7 linked regions of the Homo sapiens genome follow. The protein of the gene in region 7 purifies or fractionates together with the protein of the main gene of each other region. This does not show direct contact. Each region holds a gene or a part of one and is shown on either strand. Other genes may lie near its edges.

The links.
Region 1: the proteins of VDAC2 (region 7) and IMMT fractionate together in Homo sapiens (co-fractionation; 2 studies listed by BioGRID). This does not show direct contact.
Region 2: the proteins of VDAC2 (region 7) and GALNT2 fractionate together in Homo sapiens (co-fractionation; one large-scale study listed by BioGRID). This does not show direct contact.
Region 3: the proteins of VDAC2 (region 7) and SCCPDH fractionate together in Homo sapiens (co-fractionation; one large-scale study listed by BioGRID). This does not show direct contact.
Region 4: the proteins of VDAC2 (region 7) and RAB2A purify together in Homo sapiens (affinity purification with mass spectrometry; 2 studies listed by BioGRID and IntAct, with this or other methods). This does not show direct contact.
Region 5: the proteins of VDAC2 (region 7) and BCAP31 fractionate together in Homo sapiens (co-fractionation; 2 studies listed by BioGRID). This does not show direct contact.
Region 6: the proteins of VDAC2 (region 7) and SEPTIN11 fractionate together in Homo sapiens (co-fractionation; 2 studies listed by BioGRID). This does not show direct contact.

The regions. Positions count from the first base shown.
Region 1 is NC_000002.12:86,167,963-86,171,462, forward strand, and holds part of IMMT (MICOS complex subunit MIC60), read right to left. Parts: intron 3,420-3,500; exon of another isoform or gene 3,384-3,419; coding exon 3,246-3,383; intron 2,883-3,245; coding exon 2,787-2,882; coding exon of another isoform or gene 2,779-2,786; exon of another isoform or gene 1,351-2,778; intron 1-1,350. UniProt on the Homo sapiens protein: Component of the MICOS complex, a large protein complex of the mitochondrial inner membrane that plays crucial roles in the maintenance of crista junctions, inner membrane architecture, and formation of contact sites to the outer membrane.
Region 2 is NC_000001.11:230,262,738-230,266,237, reverse strand, and holds part of GALNT2 (polypeptide N-acetylgalactosaminyltransferase 2 precursor), read right to left. Parts: intron 3,317-3,500; coding exon 3,233-3,316; intron 998-3,232; coding exon 871-997; intron 1-870. UniProt on the Homo sapiens protein: Catalyzes the initial reaction in O-linked oligosaccharide biosynthesis, the transfer of an N-acetyl-D-galactosamine residue to a serine or threonine residue on the protein receptor.
Region 3 is NC_000001.11:246,734,409-246,737,908, forward strand, and holds part of SCCPDH (saccharopine dehydrogenase-like oxidoreductase), read left to right. Parts: intron 1-1,566; coding exon 1,567-1,647; intron 1,648-3,500.
Region 4 is NC_000008.11:60,582,987-60,586,486, reverse strand, and holds part of RAB2A (ras-related protein Rab-2A), read right to left. Parts: intron 2,280-3,500; coding exon 2,197-2,279; intron 1,765-2,196; coding exon 1,672-1,764; intron 1-1,671.
Region 5 is NC_000023.11:153,703,888-153,707,387, forward strand, and holds part of BCAP31 (B-cell receptor-associated protein 31), read right to left. Parts: intron 208-3,500; coding exon 72-207; intron 1-71. UniProt on the Homo sapiens protein: Functions as a chaperone protein. Is one of the most abundant endoplasmic reticulum (ER) proteins.
Region 6 is NC_000004.12:77,019,252-77,022,751, reverse strand, and holds part of SEPTIN11 (septin-11), read right to left. Parts: coding exon 3,491-3,500; exon of another isoform or gene 2,251-3,490; coding exon 2,082-2,250; exon of another isoform or gene 1,976-2,081; intron 494-1,975; exon of another isoform or gene 1-493. UniProt on the Homo sapiens protein: Filament-forming cytoskeletal GTPase. May play a role in cytokinesis. May play a role in the cytoarchitecture of neurons, including dendritic arborization and dendritic spines, and in GABAergic synaptic connectivity.
Region 7 is NC_000010.11:75,224,296-75,227,795, reverse strand, and holds part of VDAC2 (non-selective voltage-gated ion channel VDAC2), read right to left. Parts: intron 1-3,500. UniProt on the Homo sapiens protein: Non-selective voltage-gated ion channel that mediates the transport of anions and cations through the mitochondrion outer membrane and plasma membrane.

The sequences.
Region 1 (3,500 bases), on a different chromosome or scaffold from region 7:
ACAATCGTAACAGGGAAAAAGAGGTGCCCATTTCATCCCCTTGGCAAGAAGGAATACTCATAGCAAAACACTTATGTTGACAAGATACAAGAAAACAGACAAGAGAAAGAAAAAGACAAATAAGAAAACAGGTCAAAAAATACAAAACAAAACCCAAAGGCAACTTGAAATGGACAGTGTTCTTCCATAAAAGGACTCAAGAAATAGCAGACACCAATGTTCAAGAGGCTTCCATCTATTAAGATCACATTTCTATATGCTGTTTCGGGAATACCAAAAAGTAAAGCAAATGACAATTTTAGATAATTTACTAAAATGCAAAAATAAATGGTCATTTGAAGAAAGGCGGCTAGTAAGAATACTAATTTAATAATAAATGGGCCGGCGCAGTGGCTCACGCCTGTAATCCCAGCACTTTGGGAGGCCGAGGCAGGTGTATCACCTGAGGTCAGGAGTTCGAGACCAGGCTGGCCAACATTGTGAAACCCCGTCTCTACTAAAAATACAAAAATTATCCAGACATGGTGGTGGGTGCCTATAGTCCCAGCTACTCAGGAGGCTGAGGCAGGAAAATCGCTTGAACCTGGGAGTTGGAGGTTGTAGTGAGCCGATATTGCACCACTGCACTCCAGCCTAGGTGACAGAGTGAGACTCTGTCTCAAAACAAATTAATTAAATAAATGATATCACATGACAAAAAATAAAAAATGTATTTGACAAGCGAGAAAAAAAGATGATTTTGAGGAAAAGAAGCATAAACTAGCAATGAACAAATGGAATCTGAGGAACTACAAATGGTACCTCTGCAAGAAAGATAAGAGGAAAACTAATAAGGAGAAAATAAAAAGAAATTGACAGAAGTGATAGAAGTGAAATGAGAGCAGGGGATACAACAAGAGAAAGGGGCAAGGGAGAGAAACCGTGGTATTTGGATCCCATGACATGCGTGAGTGAACAGTGGACATCAAGTACAGGCAGTTGTGAACCACTTTATGGAGGCCACAGAAAGTGGGCTGCTGGGAGGCACCTGCTGCTTCCAGCCCTCTTCAGAGGTTTAGTCACTGTCCTTTGATCCTTGATAAATATTTCACATGCAAATGCATATGTGTATATTTTTAAAGTCAAGTTTGAGGGGGAATTAAGAGGTGACAGATAAAATTCTGAAAATTTTCACTTTGCCCAAAATGAAAGATGAGAGGAACCAGGCAAGGAAAAGAACAGCTGGAACAGCAGACATCTCCATCTTACGTTTATAACTTAATTTCAAGGTGCCCAAGTGATAAAGAGAGAAAAGTGAAAAGTGAAGAAAAAACAGGACTAAAAGAAAAAAGAAGTAGGAAAAATGAAATATTTCACTTAGTTAGAAGTCATTTATTAAATATTCACAAATATTTGTAACACAATCAGAAGAATACAAAAAATCAAAAACGAAAATCCAAATCCAAGTAGGAAAACTAATGCCATAGGCACAGAATGACACCTATGCTATTCTAAGAAACTTGGTTCCTCAGGGTAGGGCAGAACCAGCACATTACAAGGGAAACAGGAGCAAAACAAATGACAAGGAGATCAAAAAACTATAAACAGCTGCCATGAGTACTGAACTCTCTGTCCAGCAAAAAGCTACATCCCACGACCTCCAGAGACATCAACATATTATAGCACAGTACAAAAAATTATGTTACATGTGCTTTAAGACAGAAAAATAAATTGATAAATATCTATTATCTTTTTTAAACCATCAAAAAATTTAAGAATCCTGACCTACCGAGGACAGCAAAAATAATAATAATGATAAAAAAAACTTGGCCAGGTGTGGTAGCTCATGCCTGTAATCCCAGCACTTTGGGAGGCCAAGGTGGGAGGATTTCTTGAGGCCAAGAGTCCAACACTACCCTGACCAACACAGTAAGAGCCCATCTCTTAAAAACAAACAAACAAAAAAACCATAAAACTGAAACTTAAAAAGGAATATGCTTGTTAGCTGGAAACCAGCGATGTGTAGAACATTCCATGCCCCACCAGTGTCAGATAAAAGCACTACTAGAGAGTCCAGAGGCTAGATGATAAGGCAGTGTAAGCCATTCTGACTCCAACAAATAAATTTACAATTATTAATAAACAATTATTTACAAGTATAAATTAACAATTATTAATAAAAGACTCTTAGGGCTGGGTACAAGGGCTCAGGCCTGTAATCCCAGCACTTTGGGAGTTCAAGGTGGGAGGATCACTTGAGCCCAGGAGTACGAGACCAGTCTAGGCAACATAGTGAGATGCCTGTGTCTATAAAAAATTTTTAAAAAATTAGCTGGGTATGGTGGTACACGCCTGTAGTCCCAGCTACAGAGGAGGCTGAGGTGGGAGGATGGCTTTGGCCTGGGAGGTTGAGGCTGCAGTGAGCCATGACAGTGCCACCGCACTCCAGTCTGGGTGACAGAAAAGAGCCTATCTCAAAAAAATAAATAAAGGACTTTTAGGCAAGCTGCTAAAACATAAATAATCAATTTCTGTTTCCCAGAGTATAAAGAATCTTTAGCGCTAACATAATCTTTAGTATTATTTGGAGTTTTCACCAACTATACACTAAGAATAGCCTTTGTCACTTAGGTAAAAGAAGTTTAGATGAAATGAAGGTGATGAATAAAGCAATGCCACTAAAAAACAACCGCAGCAACAAAAGAAACCACAACTAGGTGATAGATGACAAACTTGTGCTGATAGTTTAAGAAGAGAGCAACTGGGAGATGACCCAAAATCCTTAAGAAGCTGTCTGGTTTACATACACTCAATTTTAACTTGTTCTTGTTTTTCCTGTTGTGCAAGGCGAGCTGCAACTTCTTCAGGTGGTCGCTCCCTTATAGAAGATGAGGATGCTTCTTCTTGCAGCAAAAGTAAATAAGAGGAAATCAAATTTCAGCATAGAATTTTAATAGCTAACAGGGATATAAAAAAAGCATCGTTTGTACTGGCCAGTTATATCAATGCAGGGCATTTTTGTGTTAAGAATTCTAAAACCATATCATTACTCTTAATGATTCCAAAATGAAGAAATAGGAATCAGGCTTTAATCTTCTTGTTTAAAAAGATACATTCGGACATTTAAATTTTAAAAATTTCCTAAGAAACTCTGAAGACCTAAACCTAGTGTAAATGTATACTTAGTGTCTACGTGTTGCCTAGGCATTAAATAGTTCTGATGAGTGTATCATGTATAAAAGAACAAATAGAAATAATTAAATTACCTGAAAGTGCAGGTGTGGGTTTTCCTTCACCAATTTCAGGGTGATCAGTTTTTAAAGATTCCTCAGGCTGAACTGCAGGGGCTGGGACCGACAGGGTATCACCTGCTGCAGAAATAATTTGAGCCGCTTCTGTAGGTGCTATAAATATATGTTACTCATGGTATTTATACTTTCCTGGGTTAACAGAGAAACACACAGAAATTTACTACCACCATCACCACCCACTTCACATCTGACTCCTTAGAGACACAAATA
Region 2 (3,500 bases), on a different chromosome or scaffold from region 7:
AGAAGGTAGTGGGTTTTTCTGTTTGTTTGTTTGTTTGTTTTTTGAGACAGAGCTTTGCTCTTGTAGCCTGGGCTGGAATGCAATGGTGTGATCTCAGCTCACAGCAACCTCTGCCTCCCGGGTTCAGGCAATTCTCCTGCCTCAGCCTCTCGGGTAGCTGGGATTACAGGTGCCCGCCACCACGCTTGGCTAATTTTTTTTTTATTTTTAGCAGAGATGGGTTTCACCATGTCGGCCAGGCTGGTCTTGAACTCCTGACCTTAGGTGATCCACCCACCACAGCCTCCCAAAGTGTTGGGATTACAGGCGTGCGCCACGGCGCCTGGCGGTTGTGCATTTTTATGCCTCTCAGAAAAGGTGTGTATGTGTGCAATGGAAGCAATTAATACTGAGTATCTTCTATCTTAAGCTATTATCTAACAGGCAGGGGCTATAACTAGCAGCCGCCTTAGTGCCCACAGTTAAGAATCTGTTGTATAGGCATACCAGGCAGGAGGTGTAGACATCATATTCTGGGGCCAGACGCAGAGGCAGAATGGGTGCTTTGCGGTTGAGTGCACATGGCCGAGAGGACAGAGCTGGCAGGAAGACCAGGGCCCTGCAACCAGCAACTGTGACCAGTGCACCCTTGCCGCTGCAGCAGAGCCTGGTCCGAAGCTGATGACAGAGCTGATGCACCAAAGTGTGTGACATTCTATCTGGCCCTGGTGCTGGCTGCCAAAGAGGCTGTGGCCAGCAGGAGCCAGGTGCTTCCTCATAGACATCACCCATCCCAGGAGAAAGGTGGCAGCTGGGACTTCTAACATCAGGACCCCCCCAACTCCTGCTCTCTCTGGGCCTGCAGGTGACCTGGCTTCCCCATGCACATACCTGGTTTCCCCCAGCATTGTGACATTCATAAACTCCAACCACACCATCAGCAAAGTGTCCCAAAGTGTCGAGGCAGTTAGTTCCCTGCTGCAAGGCCCCAAAAGCTATATCCTGATGGTCTGGAACCCTGAAAAACAACGTGAGAATCACCTGCTTCACTGCACATGACCACCAGCTCCCGTCCACCAGCCCCTTTGCTCAGTGGCCTCATGACAGGTGACAGGAACGAGAGAAAGACCCAGTGACTAGGCATCGTGCCTCTTCCTACCACAGGTAGTGTGTGTCAGGGACACGGCATTTCTCCCAGGCTCTGGACTTCCAACACTTTAAGACTGTATGTTGCAGAAGTATTCTTTATATTCTATATCAGGTCATTTTTTTTTTTTTTTTTTTTTGGAAAGGAAGGAAAAGCTCCTGATACTCTTCAATGTTAGTCTTATTGGAAGTCATTTAGAAAATCAATGTGGTCAGATCCTGTTGCCTTGAACTTTCCAATACACTTAGGATCTGACCTTTATCCAGTAAAGACGGGAAAGGTGGGCAGACTTGTCAGGTGGTCTAATGTGAACAAAGCCACAGCCACGGGGAAGAACAACGTGCTTCAGAACCAGATCCAAACCTCAGCCCACCTCTGCCAGGTGCTGGCTTTCAGGCAAGACTCACTTTCTCTGAAGCTCGATTTGCCCTTTGGTAGGCTATGGGCTACCCAGATCTGCTGCAAGTGTTACATAGAACATTTCGTGTAAAGCACACGGCCCAGTGCCTGGCTCGTAGGAGGCACTCAGTAAACGGCGGTGATATTACAGACACAAAACACGAGGCTGATGTCTCCCTCACCCCCCACAGACAGGGGAAGCAGATTTGCCAGCCAGGATGGTGCTCAGTGCCTCAGATGTGGTCTTCAGTGGGTGCGGGGCCCAGTGTCACTACAAACCATGGGTGACCTCTGTGAGAAATGGCAGTCAACTGTGACTGAAAAAGCAAAGTGAGTGGCATGGTTGGGTTAAAATCCACTGAATTGAAGCCCCTCTTTGGCTGACGGAGAGTTGATGAGCAGCCGCCTTAGTGCCCACAGTCAAGAATCTGTTGTATAGGGACACCAGGCAGGAGGTGTAGACATCATATTCTGGGGCCAGACACAGAGGCAGAATGGGTTCTTTTGGGTTGAGTGCACATGGCCGAGAGGACAGAGCTGGCAGGAAGAAGACCAGGGCCCTGCAACCAGCAACTGTGACCAGTGCACCCTTGCCGCTGCAGGTGACCATCGCTGGTGACCATCTGGTGCTCTCAATCCCCAGCAAAAGCTGTCCTGCACGGCAGGGATCCGAGGGAGAAGGACGCTGTGTTCTCTCCTGTTCTCCTCCTAGGGGGCATGGGCCACCTGGCGCCTGGCATGTTACTTGAAAAGCAGAGGAAACGGTTCCAAAGAGCCAAGTGAGCGAACAGGAGCAACAGAGAGAGGCCGCATTACCTAACTGTCCAACAAATCTCCGTGACAAGGGCTCTGAAGGAGCTGTTAGCGGAAAGATAATGGTGGCAAGTCTTGCGTTCGCAGGCACTGTGCTGGAGATATGTGAGCCGCTGTAAAATGCTCTGGGAATATTTAGAATAAGGAATGTGCCGCATTAAGGCACGACCTGCCTGACAGTCCCTTTAAGAAGATGAAGTGCAGATGGCTCCTCCACCCCAGCGGATCTATAGGTCTTCTCACGAGGTTATCAGCAGGTCCCTCCAGATGGGGAGCTCGTATTCGCTTAAAACAAGAGGCTGGGTGTGGAAATAATGCTCAGAAAGGTGTTTCTGCCATGAATCCTCCGGAGGGACGTGGGGCAGCAGCATTATTACTTCCGTTTCACATGTGATTAACCTAGCTGGGAGGAGGGAGCCTCGTGGGGGCTGTTATCTGCTGGCCCACAGGAGCAGCAAGGGTGAGCGCAGCAGATCGGAGGCATGCAAAGGCGCCTGGCGGGGGGATCGAGGGCTGGCTGCAGACACTGCATGCTTGCGGAGGCTGGGGACTGCTCCTGGTCACTCGAAGAGCCTGTCAGACACCAGTCCTTCAGGTCACCCAGCCCATCACCTTGCCAATGGAGAACAAGCCAAAAACAAGGTGAGGCCCGGGGGACTGCCTCTGGGACTCCGAAGCATGGGAGGGCAGCTCTGCAGGACAGAGACAGCAGCAGGCCAACTTGGGAGCAGATTCTCAGCTCCACACCATGGAGTGAGACCACAGGCTCTCACTGGGGCCCAGGTGCCCAATCTCATGCCTGCAGCCCCACCTCCATTTCCCCTCTGCTGCTTCTATGGCCTTACTGGCTTCTAAGCCCTTACAAAGTGAAACCCCAGATCCCTGGGGACTTACCTTAACTCTGGATAGACATTTTCAAGGTACCATTTGAAAGGCTTGCAGCTGAGTTTCTTCCTAAGCTCCAATCTGCTCTGAATACTGGAGAAGAGGGAAATAAGATTCCTTTATAAATTTTAAGAATAGATGGGCTTTCTACATCAAACTTGAAAATCTGCTGAGGAGAACAGGGTTGGGGCAGGTGGTGTGGTGTGGACTGCCCATGCTCCTGTGCCCACAACCCCTTCCCGCCTTGGCACCTGGGTAGCTGAATTCAACGCTGGGG
Region 3 (3,500 bases), on a different chromosome or scaffold from region 7:
CATATAGTTAGTAGGTGATGGATTCCAGGTGTGAACTTGGGTCTTACTGCCTTGAAATCCTTTGTTCCATGATACCATACTGCCTCAGAAGTAGAGTTCTTCATTAATTTCATGTGGTTTGTTAATGGGAGGGTAGGAACTCGAATTTCACACACTTCTCCCAGTCCTGTAATTCCAGTGTTATCCGCCATTCTTAGTAAGAGGTGTGAGGTCTTGGAGTTAGGTAAGAGGGCAGCCCATCTGACCTATTTGTAAAGGTCGATTGTGTCTTTTAAGTGTCCCTTGTTCCTCAAAGGCTGGAAGAAAGAAACGATTTCCTTGTTCCATCTTTTGCTGCCAGGAATGAATAAAGCAGAGGAGTTTGTGCTTCTAATCTACTTCTTCACAAAGGAAAAGATTTGTCATGCTTCTTTGGAAATGGGACTGAATTCTGATGTATTAGCTTTTACATATGAAAATTTGTATTTTAATTCCTTGAGTTTGAATAACAGATAATATGGGAAATCTAATATCATACAGGCTCAGAATATCTGCTCTGTTCAGTATCAAACTTATCCTTTGCAAACTCTCTTCTTCCTGTTGGTTTGTTTTTAATTTTGACCAATAATACCACTGGTTCTTGGCCCCCATGTCCAGCCCAGCTAGTCAGGAAATCCAGTCATTTCCACCTTTTTAGTATTGTATGTCTCATCTTTAGTATATCGTCTGTGCTATAAGTCTTATACCACTATCCTGTTTAAAATTCTTCTGGAAAGCCAAGTAAACTAGAAAGGATAAAGTTGAAACTTGTTAGCATGGCACATGTGGTCCTTCCTGATGTGGCCGTAGCCTGCCTTTTCAGACCCATCTCTTTCTACTTCCTACTCAAGTGAATTTGATTCCTGCTTCAAGCAACAGGAACAGCTCCTTTTTCTTAACCTCTGCATTTACTTTTTCCTGTATCTGGATTTTTCTTTTTCCTGGAAAATTTTTATTTGTTCTTTAGGGTTCAACTCAAGGGAATCACTTGTATGAAACTTTTCCTTTTGTCTTCAGGTAGAGGTAAGCATACATTGCTCTGTAATTCCATCATGCCTTTATTTATTCACACTGTGAGAGATGGTATTGTGCAGGTATCTTCTCAGTTTATCTTTTTGTTTCTGAGACGGAGTCTCACTCTGTCGCCCAGGCTGGAGTGCAGTGGCACGATCTTGGCTCACTGTAATCTCCACCTTCCAGGTTCAAACCATTCTCCTGCCTCAGCCTCCCGAGTAGCTGGGATTACAGGTGTGTGCCACCACGCCCGGCTAATTTTTGTATTTTTAGTCGAGATGGGGTTTCACCATGTTGGCCAGGCTGGTCTTGAACTCCTGACCTCAAGTGATCTACCTGCCTCGGCCTCCCAAAGTTCTGGGATTACAGGTGTGAGCCACTGTGCCTGGCCACTTTCTGAATTTATCTTTAGGCTATTTTATTAACAGTTGATTTCTTGATAACTAGGACTGTTTACTTCCAGGATTAGATGGCATTTTATTCATTTAAACTTGTCAAGCAAGAATAACCTCTTTGTTCTTTTTGTTTCCCTAGTATCGGTTTTATGGAGAACCTGTAATAAAAGCATGTATTGAAAATGGAGCCAGTTGTATCGACATCAGTGGAGAACCTCAGGTATAAAAAATAAAAAGGAAAAACGTAGAATTAACACATAAATTTCGGTTTAATGAAGTGGAAATATTTAGTGTAATTTTGCAGACATATTTAGAAGCCGACAACTCCTTTCTAGCATTCAGATATGGTATTCGTGTGGTATTCCATTGATAGCTCAAAGGAGAGCGCTGATGGTAAGGTCTTAGCTTCAGTTTTCTGAATTTTTTCCCTCCCTACAACATCATTTCTTATAGGTCTGTGCTTATTATAGCTACTTCATGCTTTAAACTGAATCAATTAAAATAGCGGACTGTGCATAATTCTTAGAATCTCAATTCTGTCATGTTTTCATTTTGAATTCCCTTTTAAAAATCAGGTACCTTTAGGCCGGGCACGGTGGCTCACACCTGCACTCCCAGCACTTTGGGAGGCCAAGGCGGGCAGATCATGAGGTCAGGAGATCGAGACCATCCTGGCCAACACGGTGAAACCCCATGTCTACTAAAAATACAAAAAGTGAGCCGGGCATGGTGGCGGGCACCTGTCATCCCAGCTTCTTGGGAGGCTGAGGTGGGAGAATGGGGTGAACCTAGGAGGTGGAGCTTGCAGTGAGCCGAGATCACTCCACTGCACTCCAGCCTGCGCCACAGAGCGAGAGCGAGACTCTGTCTCAAAAAAAAAAAGAAAATTCAGTTACCTTTATAACATTACAGAAAAATAAAGGTAAAATTCACTAGTGTAAAATCAACCTAAACATTTTAAATGTTCACATTTATTGAATGCTTACCATATGCCCAACATTGTGCTAAGTGTTTTATGTAACTTTTTAAAAATATACCTATAGGGTAGTTATCTTCCTCCATTTTTTGTAGATGAGGAAATTAAAGCTTAGGAAGCTTAAGTAACTCACTCAGTAATGCACCTAGTAATGCACCTAGTAATGCACCTAGTAAGTAGAAGAACTAGGTCTTCAATTGAGGTTTGCCTGACCACAGGAAGTTATGTGTTAACAGGCATTAAGCTCTACTACAGCCTTTAAAATGGTAACCTCATGTGTCTCTGTAGTAACTACTGATTATCATCATCAGCATGCCAATATGATATTAATATGCATTTGCAGTTTATCAATTGGTAAAATACTGGAAAATACTGAGACAGTGTAAATTACAAAAATTGATTCAAAAAGGAGGAAACAAATTAAAAAAAAAAAAAAGCCCAGGCGAGGTGGCTCACGCCTGTTACCCCAGCACTTTGGGAGGCTAGGTGGGAGGATGACTTGAGCTGGTGAGTTAACAAATTAGCCAGGAGTTGGTAGCACACACCTGTGGTCCCACCTACTCAGGAGAATGAGACAGGAATATCACTTGAGCCTGGGAGGTCAAGGCTGCAATGAGCTATGATCATGCCACTGCACTCCAGCCTGGGCAACATAGTGAGACCCTGTCTCCAAAAAACAAAAACAAAAAACAATTCCCATGTTATTTTAAATAACCCAGAACATAGAAAATGGTGAAAAGCTTTTAAGTCATCTAGAAACTATCATAAAAGTAGTATCGAACCCCCCCCTTTTTTTTTGATACAGGGTCTCTCTCTCTCACCCAGGCTGGAGTGCAGTGCTACGATCTTGGCTCACTGTAACCTCTGCCACCTGGGTTCAAGCGATTCTCCTGCCTCAACCTCCTGAGTAGCTGGGGGTACAGGTGCACACCACCACACCTGACTAATTTTTGTATTTTTAGTAGTGACAGGGTTTCACCGTGTTGGCCAGCTTGGTCTTGAACTCCTGGCCTCAAGTGATCCACCTGCATCGGCCTCCCAGAATGCTGGGATTACAGGCATGAGCCACCACGCCCAGCCATAATATCAAAACCTAA
Region 4 (3,500 bases), on a different chromosome or scaffold from region 7:
ATATTGCTAATGTTTGTCTTTTTCCTGATCAGTATCTATTTTATTTTATCTTCTGAAGAATTAGCTTTTGGTTTCATTGGTTTTCTCTCTCTCTTTTTTTTTTAACGGGCAGGAGGCTTTCCTTAACTTTGATTTGCTCTTATTCTAGTTTCTTAAGGCAAAAAAATTAGGCTATTTTCTTTTTTTTTTTGAGACAAGGTCTTGCTTTGTTGCTCAGGCTGGAGTACAGTGGCATGAACACAGTTCACTGCAGCCTCAACTGGGCTCAAGTGATTCTCCCACCTCAGCCTCCTGAGTAGCTGGAATCACAGGAATGCACCATCATGTCTAGCTAAATTTTAAAATTTGTTGTAGAGATGGAGTCTCCCTGTGTTGCCCGGGCTGATCTTGAACTCCTGGGATCAAGCAATCCTCCACCTGGGCCTCCCAAAGTGTTGGGATCACAGGTGTGAGCCACTGTACCTGGCCCTAGGCTGTTCATTTAAAAATTTTCTTGATAGTACTATTTTAACTGCATCTCACACATTTTCAAAGACTGCAGAGAGAGAAGTTAACTTGTGGGAATAAACGCAAATAATTCCTGTCCATGGAAATGCAGACTGTGTCCTGTGGAATACAATTAATACCCTGTGAATACTGTTCAGTTTTGCATCCATCTTGTAAATTCATTTCAGTTTCTTTATTTGATTATCAATGTATAGTAATTTGAGTTCCCTTTTGAACTGGCTGAAATATCTTACCAGTTTCCTTATCTTGTTAATTAATGAGATAAAAGTTTTGAGATGTCTTCATTATCATATAAGTCATGATTTTACCTATCTAAAAACAGCATCTCTTCAGAGTATTTTATTAATATAACCCTAAAGAATGAATGGGCCGGGTGTGGTGGCTTATGCCTATAATCCCAGTACTTTTGGAGGCCCAGGTGGGAGAATCACTTGAGGTTAGGAGCCTGAGACCAGCCTGGGCAACAAAGTGAGACCCTTTCTTTATAAGAAATAAAAAGATAAACTAGCTGTGGTTGTGCATGCCTACAGTCTCAGCCACTTTGGAGGCTGAGGCAGGAGGATTCCCTTGAGCCCGGGAGGCCAAGCTGCAGTGAGCTATGATCACACCACTGCACTCTAGCCTGGGTAACAGAGTGAGTCCCTGTCTCAAACAAAACAAAACAAAACAAAACAAAACAAAACAAAACAAAACAAAAAGAATGGTGCCTAGCATTTTGAAAATACTAATATTTTCTTACCACTGTAAGTTTCTACAAAAATTAGTGAAAACTTTCCCACACTCTTAGAAGTTTATGGAAACTGGTCAAGCAAGAAGGTTTTCCCATATAATAGCATTTTAAATTGACAGCACAAAGATGTTCAATCCAACTCCCCAAATAAATCAGTAGGCTTTACTTTACATCAGTAATCTGATAAAACTCCTTCAGATTACTTTTTAAAGTATTTCTTTACACAAAAACTATTTCTAATAATAACAGTAATAATTTCCAACAAAGCTTATTAACATCATTTTAAAAATCAAAAGAAACACCTTAGAATTTCCGAAATTTTATAATTTAAGAGGCTGGTAACTCACATTTGAACAAATGTTAAGGAAAGTAGTCAAATAAACAGTACAGTCTTCATCACTAATGCAATGTAAGCTCTAAATTAGCCTTTTTACCTTTTATTTCCAATAAGCATAATGACCATGTTGGAATTGGAATGCTGGCGGGCATCTTCTAACCAGGTTGTCAAGTGGTTGAATGTATCTCTCCTAAACATAAATAATAATTTAATTACTATGTTCAAAGCATTTCCCTCAGTATACAACGAACAATATACATATTTTTAAAGAGAACCACTTTTAGCCATATCCACTTATGTAACGAGAAGTAGTTTTAAGCACCATATCTGGGTTTAGAGTTCACTGATTGTATTTCAGTTTATAAATTAAATGTAATCACACTTTAGAAAATTCCAATGAATAAATAATATGGCCGATTTCAATTTGAAGGTGCTAATTCAAATAAGAAAAACAATTCAGTTGCAGGTTTCTGTAGTAAATTTAAATTGGACTCAAGATGCAGTTTTAAAGGTGAGTAGCCGGGGCAGAAAGGCTAAGCTATTCTTTCATTACTGTTAACCACATCTATTTAGAAAAATTCTCTGTATCAACTACTGAATTGCAAAGTTTTCAAGTTCTCACCGTGTAATATCGTAAACTAGTAAAGCTCCTGCTGCACCTCTGTAATACGACCTTGTGATGGAACGAAAGGATTCTTGCCCTGCCTGTAACGAAAAAAAAGGTTGGAGAGTTTCCTTTAATACAATGTCCTCTACATTTTCATATTATTCATATACAGAATAAGAGCAGGTAGGGAAGGAGTGCATAAAGAGAGACAAGAAAACTTAACTTCACCAGTCTTAGGAAAAAGTTACAAAACACCGCTATTGCTCAAGATTGCTCAAGTCAACGAGACGCACATGTAGTGCACATGTAGTCGCTCCTGCAACCTCCCCAGCCCGCAAGACCTCTAAACCCTTTTTGGCAATCCCTGACAACCCAATTTACTGAATGGCTTCACAATACACGAATCATTATTAAAGGACAGAATGGACTCCTAGCAACTAAGCTCTGAAGACAAATTTGAAAGGAAGCAAATAACCCAGAGCCTCACATTTGAATTCAATAACCCACTCCCTGGGGCAGCTGTTGACACTAGAATAAATAAAACCCATTGTAAATAAATGATGAATGACATCTTTACGCCCACCATCTGCTGGTGTAAAGGTTGTTGGAAGGCCAAGGATGCAGATTTTATCAGTTATATCATAAACTGCAGTGAGCTTTCAACAGTCATCAAATGGAATTCTTTGAGCAATCATTTTATTATGAAAAGCAAAATGGTTCTGAATTTAATTTATATAAGTTTTTTTCTCCACACTTAATCAATTTTCTCTGTATTTGATATATAATGCTTGTCAAAAGGCAACAGGATGTAAAAGTCATCTTTATATCCACTTGTGAAACAGACACAAGAGATTATGCAAAGCTAGGTAATTTCTCTTTTACTCATGGTACTAATTTCTGTTTTTTTAAGAATTGCTGGGGAGGAATGTGACTGTTCTGTCTGAGTTTAAAACCGAGACAGCTCTTATAAGAAGTTATTTTTCATTTTTAATCCCTTCTTTTCCTACTTTTGCAAAAACATAAGCATTTTAATTAAGTAAACGTAAAGCCAATTTTAACGATTTTTATATTCAAAATCCCCTAACTTGAAAAATATTGATGTTTACACATTCTGAGTTCTGATCTTGCAATGTAAATATTTAGCCCTTCCCACCCTCAGAATGCGCATGGACGGCTCATATTCTACCCTGTTTAACACTCAACACTCTACAATACCTTGCTCTTGTTGACCCTTCCTCTATACTCCCTCCCTCCCCCATCCCCCACCCCCTGCATGTGACTAAGTGTGTGCTAGGCACTGGGTCCGGCATATAGCAGGC
Region 5 (3,500 bases), on a different chromosome or scaffold from region 7:
GGCCCTGAAGAATGTGGCTCCCACAGTGTAACACCAGGACGCCCCATGGTGGGTCGGGAAGCTGGGCTCACCTTCTTGAGCTGGTCATTCTCCTCCATGTACTTCTTGGCCGCCTCACTAGCACTCTCCGCCTGCTTTTTAAAGGCTTCATTGGAGGCCAGCAGCGTGGCCTGCTGCGAAATGAGAGTCACCAGGCGTCTAAGCAGGCTGCAATTATTTACAAAAAGAAGGGAGAAGTGAGAAAAAGAGCATGAAGGGCTGGCAGGAGCACCTCCTGGTTGCTCCCACTCCACACCTAGCTCCAGCCTGGACCTGCCCTCTTGCCAAGGCAGCCGAGTGAGAAGCCGCCAACCTGGTGCTGGCAGCGTGAGGGAAAAGGTGGGGCCCAGGAGCCGTCCTCTGCCGCTGTGCCCAACGGCCACCCTCAGCTCTCAGAGGGGCTGGAAGCAGGAGCCTGGGGGGCTGGGAAGAGCCTCGCTACAGCATGAGGTCCCAGAACGCGGCACTTTCCGGGTCGGGGCCTAGACGTGCCAGACAAGCCACAGCACCACCTTCCTCCCTGCGAGGCTGGGCTTGCCTTGGTAAGGTAACGAGAGAAGCTAATCAATCCAAGCACTTCCAACATGCCAGGCCGCATCCTCACATCTACCTGATGAGGAAGTTACTATCACTGCCCCAGCTTATAGAAGAGGAAACTGAAGTTCAGCAGCGTAAATCAATGTACCCAAGGCCAAAAACCAGAAATGGACATGGCTGGAATTCCAAATTATGTCTGCCTGACTCCAGAACCTGAGCTCGGAACCACTCTGCTCTCTAAACTAACAGGGAACAGCTCCCAGGTCCCAACGTAAGATAGAACTCTCTTCTCTGGCCAGCCTCCTTCCCAACCCATCATGCAGGCTGCGCTGGAACACATCCGTTATGTAACAGCACCCCGAATGAGGTCTTCTTGGGCTGGAGGGTGTAGAGGAATCAGGACACAGGCGCAGGCTGCCTCTCTGAAGCAGCCAGGAGAGACAGGCAAACAGGTGGCAGCTGGAGGCAGATGCTAGTCCCCAAACAGAGATTGGAATGGCCACTTCATTTCCCTTGGTTCACCCTTGCCCCGAGATGTTAGCTGGCAGGAAGAGAGGAGGGAAGGACTCGTTCAAACAGTCAAAACAAGGCAGGGGTTCCTTTCTCACACACCTCAGAAGGCAAGGGTCACACAGGGCCTGGGGGAAGGAAGAGACAAATCTGCTTAGTCCAGAGTGCTTCAACAACAGCTTACTCAGAAGAGTCGAAGTGGCCTCCTGCCCCAGCCAGGCCTTCACACTTCACAGCCTCTGCTCATGGCCAGGGGCAGCCCGGAAGGGCTGGAGAAAGTAAAGAGCAGACAAGGTGAGCTACCTCCCTGGCCCAAGCCATGGCTCTCCAGGGCCTCGGCAGAGCCCCTTTCCAGATGTACTCAGGACAGAAAGTACCCACCCGGGCCAGGAGACACCCCTGAGGTTCCTGGTTTGGGGAGAGGCTCCCAGGGGCCCCTGGCAGCACCAGGAGAGCCAGGCCGTTGATTCCTGGCAGAGAAGGAGAGTTTCCAGTGACATGTGCTTTCTAAAATTAGCGGCCCAGGACCTCGTGGCCTAGGGCTCAGGTTTCCCTGCCTCAGCCCCCAGCTGCCCACCAGCCTGCCCCGCACTGGGCTACAGCCTGAAGGTGGAGGAAGCTACTGAGCGCCCTAGGAGCCAGAGAGAAACAATGCATCTGACTCACATCGGCATGGCCAGAAGTCAATGGAGAGGCCTAGAAAGAAAGGCAAGTCTGACTAAGACCCAGGCCCCCGGCAAGGAGCTGCCCAGCCCCAGAGCGGATCCCAGTGATGTAGAAAGAGGAAGAGGACCGCTCCTCCCAGCTGGAATTGAGGGGTGGGGGTCATGCCACCTGGTGGTAGAGAGAGGACCAAGCAAGACTGAAGGCTATACTCCCCGCCACCAGGCCAGGCAAGCGGCTGCTGGTGAGTGCCCATGGCTGTCACCCCAGTACCCAGGGAGATAGCTAACACAAATGCTTCCGCGGCAGTGCAGCAGAGGCCCAGCTCTTTTCGGACCGTCCCAGGCCCTTCCCGGCTATTGAGAACCAGGGCTTCCAAGATAGGCCAGGGCATACACAAAGTCCAGCGCAAGATCCACGCTGTGTGTGTCCGAAAGCCTGGCCCTGCTCAGCCCCAGCCCAGGCCTTCAGTTCCCAGCCTTGAGACAGTCTGGGGCTCCCCTCTGCCAGGCCCCGGTTCCCCTTCCTCTTGCCAACCCTCACAGGCGCTCCCCACCCCCACAGCACCCCGGGCATACTCCTCCCACTGCACCCCCAGCCCGATAGTTCTTTTTCACACCTTCTAGGTCCTCTCTCTTCCTGCTGGATGACCCGGGATCATTCTCCCCCCAGGAACCTCACCTTCAACTGCCTCCTTCCTGGAGTCACCCTGCCCAAGCCCCTGGTCTTTTCCCTCCCATATATTCCTCAACCTAGGCTGGCCAAGGCCTGCCCTTCCAAGCCAGCAGCAGGGCCACCAGTGGCCTCCTAACCGCCCAGGCCGGAGGTCACCCTGAACTCCTTGCTCTGCTGCTAAGTTACCCTCCTGAGGTCCCCTCGCAACACCCTCCTCCCACTGTTATTCTGCTCCCTCTGGGGTCTGCACTCTTCAGCTGACACCCTATACCTTCCTCCCAGCCACTCTTATCCCCGAAAGGGTTTTCTCTGTGGCCCAGACTCATACCTAACCTCCTGCTAAACATTGGCTCCTGGATGTCCCCAGAGACATTCTAGACTCAGCTTGTCCAAAACGGGCCTTCCCTTGTCCTGCCTGACCTGACCACCTCGTGTAGCCCCTGCTGTAGTGGTGGGCAGGCAAACCGCCTTGGACTCAGCCCTCTTGGCCCCCAGCCCAAGCCACAACCCAGCACTTTCCATGTCAACTGCAAACATGCCCACCATCATCCCCACTGCTGGCGCCTCCTCCCTATCTGCTGCCATACGGCTTTCCCATCCACCTCCCAGAGCAAGGCAAATCCGACCATGTCAGCCCTCTGCTTAAGCCACCTGCTGCCAGCACGCATGCCCTCAGTGAGCTCTCCTCCTTCACTAACCACGTGGCCCCCTGCTCTAGTAACACCTAACCCCTCACCATTCCTGGAACACGCCTGGCTCTGTGTGGCAGTTCTCCAGGCCGGAATGTCCTCTCGACCCAGCTCAATCCTCACCTCCCCCCAGAAACCCTTTTGGATCTCCCACCCCATCAGAGGGACGCCTTCTGGGGGCTCCTGCAGCAGCCCCCCAGGCACCCGCATGTAACTACCTCATTCTCTGTTCTCTGCGTGGCTGCCATCCGTTTATATGGCTGCCCTACCAGGCTATGAAGGTCTTTAGGCTGGGCACTGTGCCTTCATCTCTGCACTCCCATACCTGGCACACTGAAAAGGGGTCTTCCGCCCACTCCAGCAAGTATAGCTAAAAAAAAAAAGGGG
Region 6 (3,500 bases), on a different chromosome or scaffold from region 7:
GAAGTAAAACACTTTGGGAGGTAAATGACCTCTAACAAACTCAAGAAGCAGTCACATGCATTCTAACTTTTGCAGGCAGTTCACAGGCTCCAAGTTATGATCTCGTCTAGGGGTTGGGAAACTACAGCCTGAGGACCAAATCTGGCCCCCCATCTGTTTTTGTAAATGAAGTTTTACCGGAACACAGCCATGCCCATTCATTTACAGTATGGTCTATGGCTGCTTTCGGACGACAAGGGCAGAACTGAATAGTTGTGACAGAGACCGTTTGGCCTGCAGAACCTAAAATATTTACTGTCTAACCCAGTATGGAAAAAAATTTTTTTTTACTGGATCTAATTATTCCCTGATCTGGATCAGCTCCTCATTTCACAGATGAAGAAACTCAGGCCCAGATGGGTTAAGAACTTGTAGCGTAGCAGGACCAAGAACTGAACCCAAACTCCTGACTCCTAGCCCAGTGCTCTTCAACACTGTCTGGATTTGAATGAAGGTGAGGGGAAAATGAATTCAATTTTATGGCAGTTCCTTTTGTTCCATATCTCTTTGCATGAAAACAAATATTTTATGTAATACTGAAGACGGCCTTTCCCACACAGAAACCATTTCATCAGGTTTAGTAACCATAAAGTGGACTTGATTTTGTAAGGATTATTTTCTGGTAAATGCATTTCAAGGTTCAATTAGCTAAACCTGTGTACACAAAAAGGTGTCCTACACCTCGCCTCAGAACATGACTTTCACATGGTTGGAGATGGTCAGTTTTGCAAGCCGTCAGGGCAGAAGTGAATGATGCAATCTTGGCTAGAAGTTAACTTCTTGGTATGCCCCTTGTCTGGGTTCTGCATTTGTTCTCACTGCATACACACATGCTCATGGAACTCCTCAGCAGCACAGTGCCAGGCGACAAGCCCAGGCATTCCTAAACTATCTCTAAAGCAATTGCAAGAAAATAAACTCCCTCCTACAGACCCACGGGGACAGAATCTGCTGTGCACAGGCTGCCTCCGGTTCTATTGTCAGCCAGCTTGTAGACATCAGAGTGTGTTGTAGGCCAAAGAGGAGAAAGACAGGTTTTTTTTCCCCAAGGAACTATGGCCCTCAGTTTGTAAAGGCACAGAGCCCAGACACACCTCACACCACCTGAATTCAAATCCCCATTAAGAAACAGCTTGGGGGCCAGGCGCGGTGGCTCACGCCTGTAATCCCAGCACTTTGGGAGGCCGAGGCACTCCAGCCTGGTGACAGAGCAAGGCTCCGTCTCAAACAAAAAAAAAGAAAGAAAACTGCTTGGGCACCATCTGGACAATCCTCTCCTCGACCAGGAGGTGGTGAACCTGGCCTGGCAGCCTCACCCCACAACTTTACCCAGAACCACCCCATGACTCACTACGGTGTGGGCAACAGCACCCCAGCCTTGCCAGCCCTATCCCTACCACTGGATTCTGACGGGGTCTGGGCTTCGGCTAGGATATTAATTCTACATCCATTTCTCCCCTTCACATTTTGCGTCTCCACCCGTCAGTGATATAAGAAAATACATAGATCTCCTAAAAGCTATTCTCCTTTCCTCCTGATTCTTTGTTGTTAGAATTTTACCGAACCACTGAAAGCTAATAGTAAAAGTGCTTGACAAAGGAAGAGCCTCCGGAAGTTAAAGGTGTTTGGCAAAAATGAATGGGGCAAACTGTAATCAGCAGCCGCACCTTTGTAAATATATCGACCAGGCTCTGCACCTCTGCAAGAGAACTGGCAGAAACCTGGGCTCAGGACCCAGATGGCAAGAGCTCAACACCACACCATTGTTTACTACTTGGAGGACCTTGGGCAGTTTGTTTACACTTTCAGTGCCTTTGTTTCCTCATCTGTAAAATGTGGATAATAATGACATCAACTAGGTAAGTTAGTTGAGATAATGCAAATAAAGCAATTATCACAATGCCTGACAACATATGTATTAATCTTCACCCACCAGATCCTTCCATCATCACCATCTCAATCCAGCAAGCATTTCTGTGATGTACCACCATGCCACTCTCGCCACTGTCTGGGAGACACCTGATTGCTAGATGCCTTCATACCTGAAGGGTTTGCTGTCAGGGTCAGTGTCCTTGAACCCCATCTCTTCAAGCTTACAGCGTCGGTACAATTCATAGTGGCGGGTGTGAGTCTGCTCTCGCAAGTCCTCCATGTTCACGCGGATCAGCATCTCTCGAAGTTTCACAAAATCGCAATGATTTTCATTCTCAACTACAAGAGAGGGGGGAAATGGCGGAAGTGGGATTAGCAATGATGTCACTGAAATATCTGCAGTGATGCTTCCAAGATGTTATTACCATCACTCCTGAAATCTCTGGGGTCTCAAGACCATCTGAAGATCCTTTACTGGATTCACCTTACATTCCTGACGAAGACAAGATTTCTGACAACATTGACCATAATACTGATGACAACGCTGACTGCTGAGTGCCTACTCAGCACAGAGCACAGAGGGAGGAGCTTGAAAACAAATATTGTCTTTACCCTTCATAATAACTCTGCCAACTAGATGTCATGACTCTTGCTTTGCAGACGCAGGAGCTTGGTGAGCAAGCTGACCTCCCAAAGAGAGGTAGCAGGGTCTAGATTCAAATGCCAGAACATCTGGCCCAAAGCCAGATGTATTTGTACCACTCCATGCTGTCTATAACTGTGCAGGGCCACTTTTACATACCACTTCATTTAATTTTATCAACAACACTAGGAAGAAAGGAGTTTTCTTATTGTAGAGAAATTAGTAAGAGTAAGAAAAATTGTATTTTTCCCAGGGATCTCAAAGGTACTGTTTCTTCTCACAGCTTTATTGCCTTTATTCAAAACAGAGGAAAAGGAGGTCTGATACATCTTAAACCAGCGAAGAACTTTCTTTAGCCATCCTGCTTAATCCATAGCACTGGATGTCCTCCTTCAGAACATAAGAGTAGGTCATAGAGTCCTTGTCATTCAAAGTGACACACGTGACAAGCTTTCAGGTTAGACTGTGGCCATGTCCCACAGTGCCAAATATAGATCAAATATTCTCCTAAGTCTCAGATTTACTAAGATAACATTTTATTAGAAGACATTTTTTGCATAGTTGATGGAGAAAAAAGTACCCTCTTGTTTGCAAGAAACTTTTTGCTGCTTTTTAATACTTGGCTGATGAAACGAGCTCCAACTCCTAGGGAAGAACTATTTTTCAATCAGGACTTTATATTAATTCCCTACACAACCCAGCATCCTTGAGGGGTTACCTCAAGGGCTTGGCAGCCATGTCTCTCCATTGTCTACCTAGCTGATTACTTTTTCTTTCTTCCTCACCTCCACGATTGTCACATGTGGAGCCCCACCACTCCCTCCCACTGCCAGCCCACTGTTGAGGGCCTCCCTAAACAAGACGGAAAATGAACAAACACGGCCATTCACATAGGGGCTAAATATGAAGACTCCATCTCCCATGCTGTGCACATACCCTGCACCAC
Region 7 (3,500 bases):
GGCCAAGATGGTGAAACCCCGTCTCTACTAAAACTACAAAAATTAGCCAGGCACGGTGGCAGGCGCCTGTAATCCCAGCTACTCGGGGTGCTAAGGCAGGAGAATCACTTGAATCCGGGTGGCAGAGGTTGCAGTGAGCAGAGCAGAGATCGCACCACTGCACTCCAGCCAGGGTAACAAAGTGAGACTCTGTCTCCAAAAAAAAAAAAAAAAAAAAATTCCTATTATTTAACAGTAAGAGTTAAACCATGAAACTGTGATAAGGAGTAGAAAAAATAAACTCAGTTTCTCCCTCTATACTCTCATAAGGCCTAGGGAGAATTTCCCACACATCAAGCAAACGATTCTGCAGCAGACTCCAGCTAGATGTTCTCTAATTCAATTCTGATACTATCTACCTGGAGAGAGAGCATCGGATCACACAGGTTCAGGGCTCAGTTTCATAAAACTGCCCCGCCCTCATTTTCAATGCTAACTGAAAGCTCCAGGTTCTTTTGCCTCTGCTTCTTACAGACTGGTTATAAACTGGGGTTCCCACAACCCCCTGGGGTTCAAGTAATTTCCTAGGGTGGCACACAGAACTCAGGGACTAACACATTTACCAGTTATATAGGATATTTTAAAGGATATAAATGAACAGCCAGATGAAAAGATACTTATATATCTTTTCCTTTATAGGTGAGGTCTTGAAGGGTCCCAAGCACAGGAGCTTCCATCCCTGTGGAGCTGGGGTGCCCCACCCTCCCATGACATGAATGTATTATTGTTTACCTTCCTGAAGGCCCCCTGGACTCAGTCCTTTGGGTTTTTACAGAGACTTCATTACAAAGGAGACTTCATTACAAAGGCACGATTAATTAAATCACTGGCCACTGGCTCAACCTTTAGCTACTATGCCCTCCCCAAGGCAGAAGGTTTGTTCCCTAGCAACCAGCACCCCCTACCATGTGGCCATCTAGGGACTATCCAAAAATCACCTCATTAACATAAGTTCAGATGTGGTTGAAAGAGGCCTGTTAAAAATAACAACATAGCCCAGGGCGCAGTGGCTCGTTCCTGTTACCCCGGCACTTTGGGAGCCAAGGCAAGTGGATCACCTGAGGTCAGGGGTTGGAGACCCACCTGGCCAACACGGTGAAACCTCATTTCTACTAAAAATACAAAAATTAGTCGGGCTTGGTGGCAGGCACCTCCAAACCCAGCTACTAAGTAGGCTGAGGCACGAGAACTGCTTGAACCCGAGAGGCGGAGGTTGAGGTTGCAGTGAGCAGAGATGGTGCCACTGTACTCCATCCAGCCTGGATGACAGTGAGATTTCATTAAAAAAAAAAAAAAAAAAAAAAACCCACAAAAGACTGTCTTTCACTTTTATGCTCTGGAGCTGTTTCAGGAACCGAGGACAAATGGCCAAATATCTCAACAAAATACACTCTTACGGCTCTAGTCACTTGGGAAATTGCAAGGGTTATAGAAGCTGTGAGCCAGGAACTTGACAAAAACCAAAATATATACACCATAGTATCATAGGCCACCCCCTGGTTTCAAACAGGGATCCCTTACAGCAAAAAGGTCCATATATCTGTCAAGGATGTTTACACTTGTTGCATTTATATAACAGACATATCTACAAGAGTACAAACACAAATATGCCTATCATCTGGAGAAGCTACTGTGGGATAGGGATAGGTTTAAAGAAGCAACTAGGATGGGCGCAGTGGCTCACACCTGTAATCTCAGCACTTTGGGAGGCTGAGGCGGGCGGATTACCAGAGGTCAGGAGTTTGAGACCAGCCTGGCCAACACGGCGAAACCTCATCTCTACTAAAAATACAAAAATTAGCCGAGTGTGGTAGTGGGCACCTATAATCCCAGCTACTCAGGAGACTGAGGCACAAGAATGGCTTGAACCCAGGAGGTGGAGGTTGCAGTGAGCCGAGATCACGCCACTGCACTCCAGCCTGGATGACTCCGTCTCAAAACAAAACAAAACAAAACAAAAAAAACCTACTCGGTCCTATGAAGAGAAAAAAAAATAGCTCAGCAGTATGAGGAATGTGAGGTATGCAAAGTTTATCAGGCCCAGAGAGACATGAGAATGAGACTTTAGTCACAGGACACACCCCCATGCCTAGGGGAAATTGTTTAAAAACACTTTGTTCTTTTTTTCCTTCCTTGTAGTTTCCAGGCTCGCTGGCAAATATCTAAAGTGTTACTGCACAATGTGACCCTCACCCATTATCTTCATGTTCCTGGAATCTGTGATACAAAGAACAATGTATAGCCAATCACTAATCAATGTTATTTCTGTAAACCAAAGAGAATTCCTGCCAAACAACTTTGTATCAGCCCACATCCTGTCCCGAATTTTTGGCCTTTAAAAACCTGTTTGTAACAAGGGCCAAATGGAGCTCAAATCCACTTGGATCTGAGTCTGCTGGGCAGCTGTCCTCATTATGGTGCAAATAAATTCTTTAAAATTGTATTTTGTGCCTTAGTTTCTTCCTTTAGGTTGACAGAAGCCATTAGAAACATCTTTATCATCTTGTACCAGCTTTCTTTTCCCTTGATCTACTGTTATTTGTACCTTGTGCAGAACTATTCAGGATGGAAATCAGCTGATAGTGAGATCCAGTTCCTCCTCAGGCCAGTCACTTTCCATAGGTATTATATCCTGAGGAGGCTTCAACTCAATTTCACAATACATATAATCATCAATCAGTATTATAAGACTTATTTACACAAGGGAGTTTAATCTGCCAACAATATTACCATATGGCAGTATGAGCATGGTACAAAAAAAATCAGTTTCGTTACAGATCAGTAAGAATTAGAGATATTTGCTTTGCCTTTCCAACAGAAATCTACCCTTCCCCATTTGTCAGCCTTTATCTTGATTAATAAGCCTGACTACTGCCCCAGGCAATTTCAGATCACATTTCTCAATGTAATCTCTAACTTCTGACTTTTTAAATTTCTCCAAACTGGGCAAAATACAGCAAATACAGGTCTTAGGGGTACTTTTTACCCTTGCAAGGTGGCTTTGAGGCTGGTGGCCAAGGCTTAAACCAAATGAAACCTGAGCTTGGTCTAGCATCAAGGTACAATCCAGCACTCTTTCACTTTGATTTTAGCTATCACAAATAACAATAATCAAGGGATTGTATATTTTGTTTGTTTCTTATTGTTTGCGTTTCCTTATGCACCCAGTGAACCAACTCCCTTGGAGTTGGATCTATCTTTGAATTCCACTGGTAATTTTTAAGTACCTGAGCACAGCACAGTTGTGGCTCCATAGCAGGGGTGACCATCTGACCACCCAGGAGTCAAAAGTTCCTCATTTCCCATCCATTTATCCTTTTTCTTCCTAAACCATGCTTCGATGAGCCACTCTAGCTAGAGCCACTCTAGCAAATCCCAATCCTGACATCAATTCTGAGGATACAGAAAAAAACCAACTCAGTTTCTCCTACTATTCTCTCACAACACAGAATGCTTCTGTG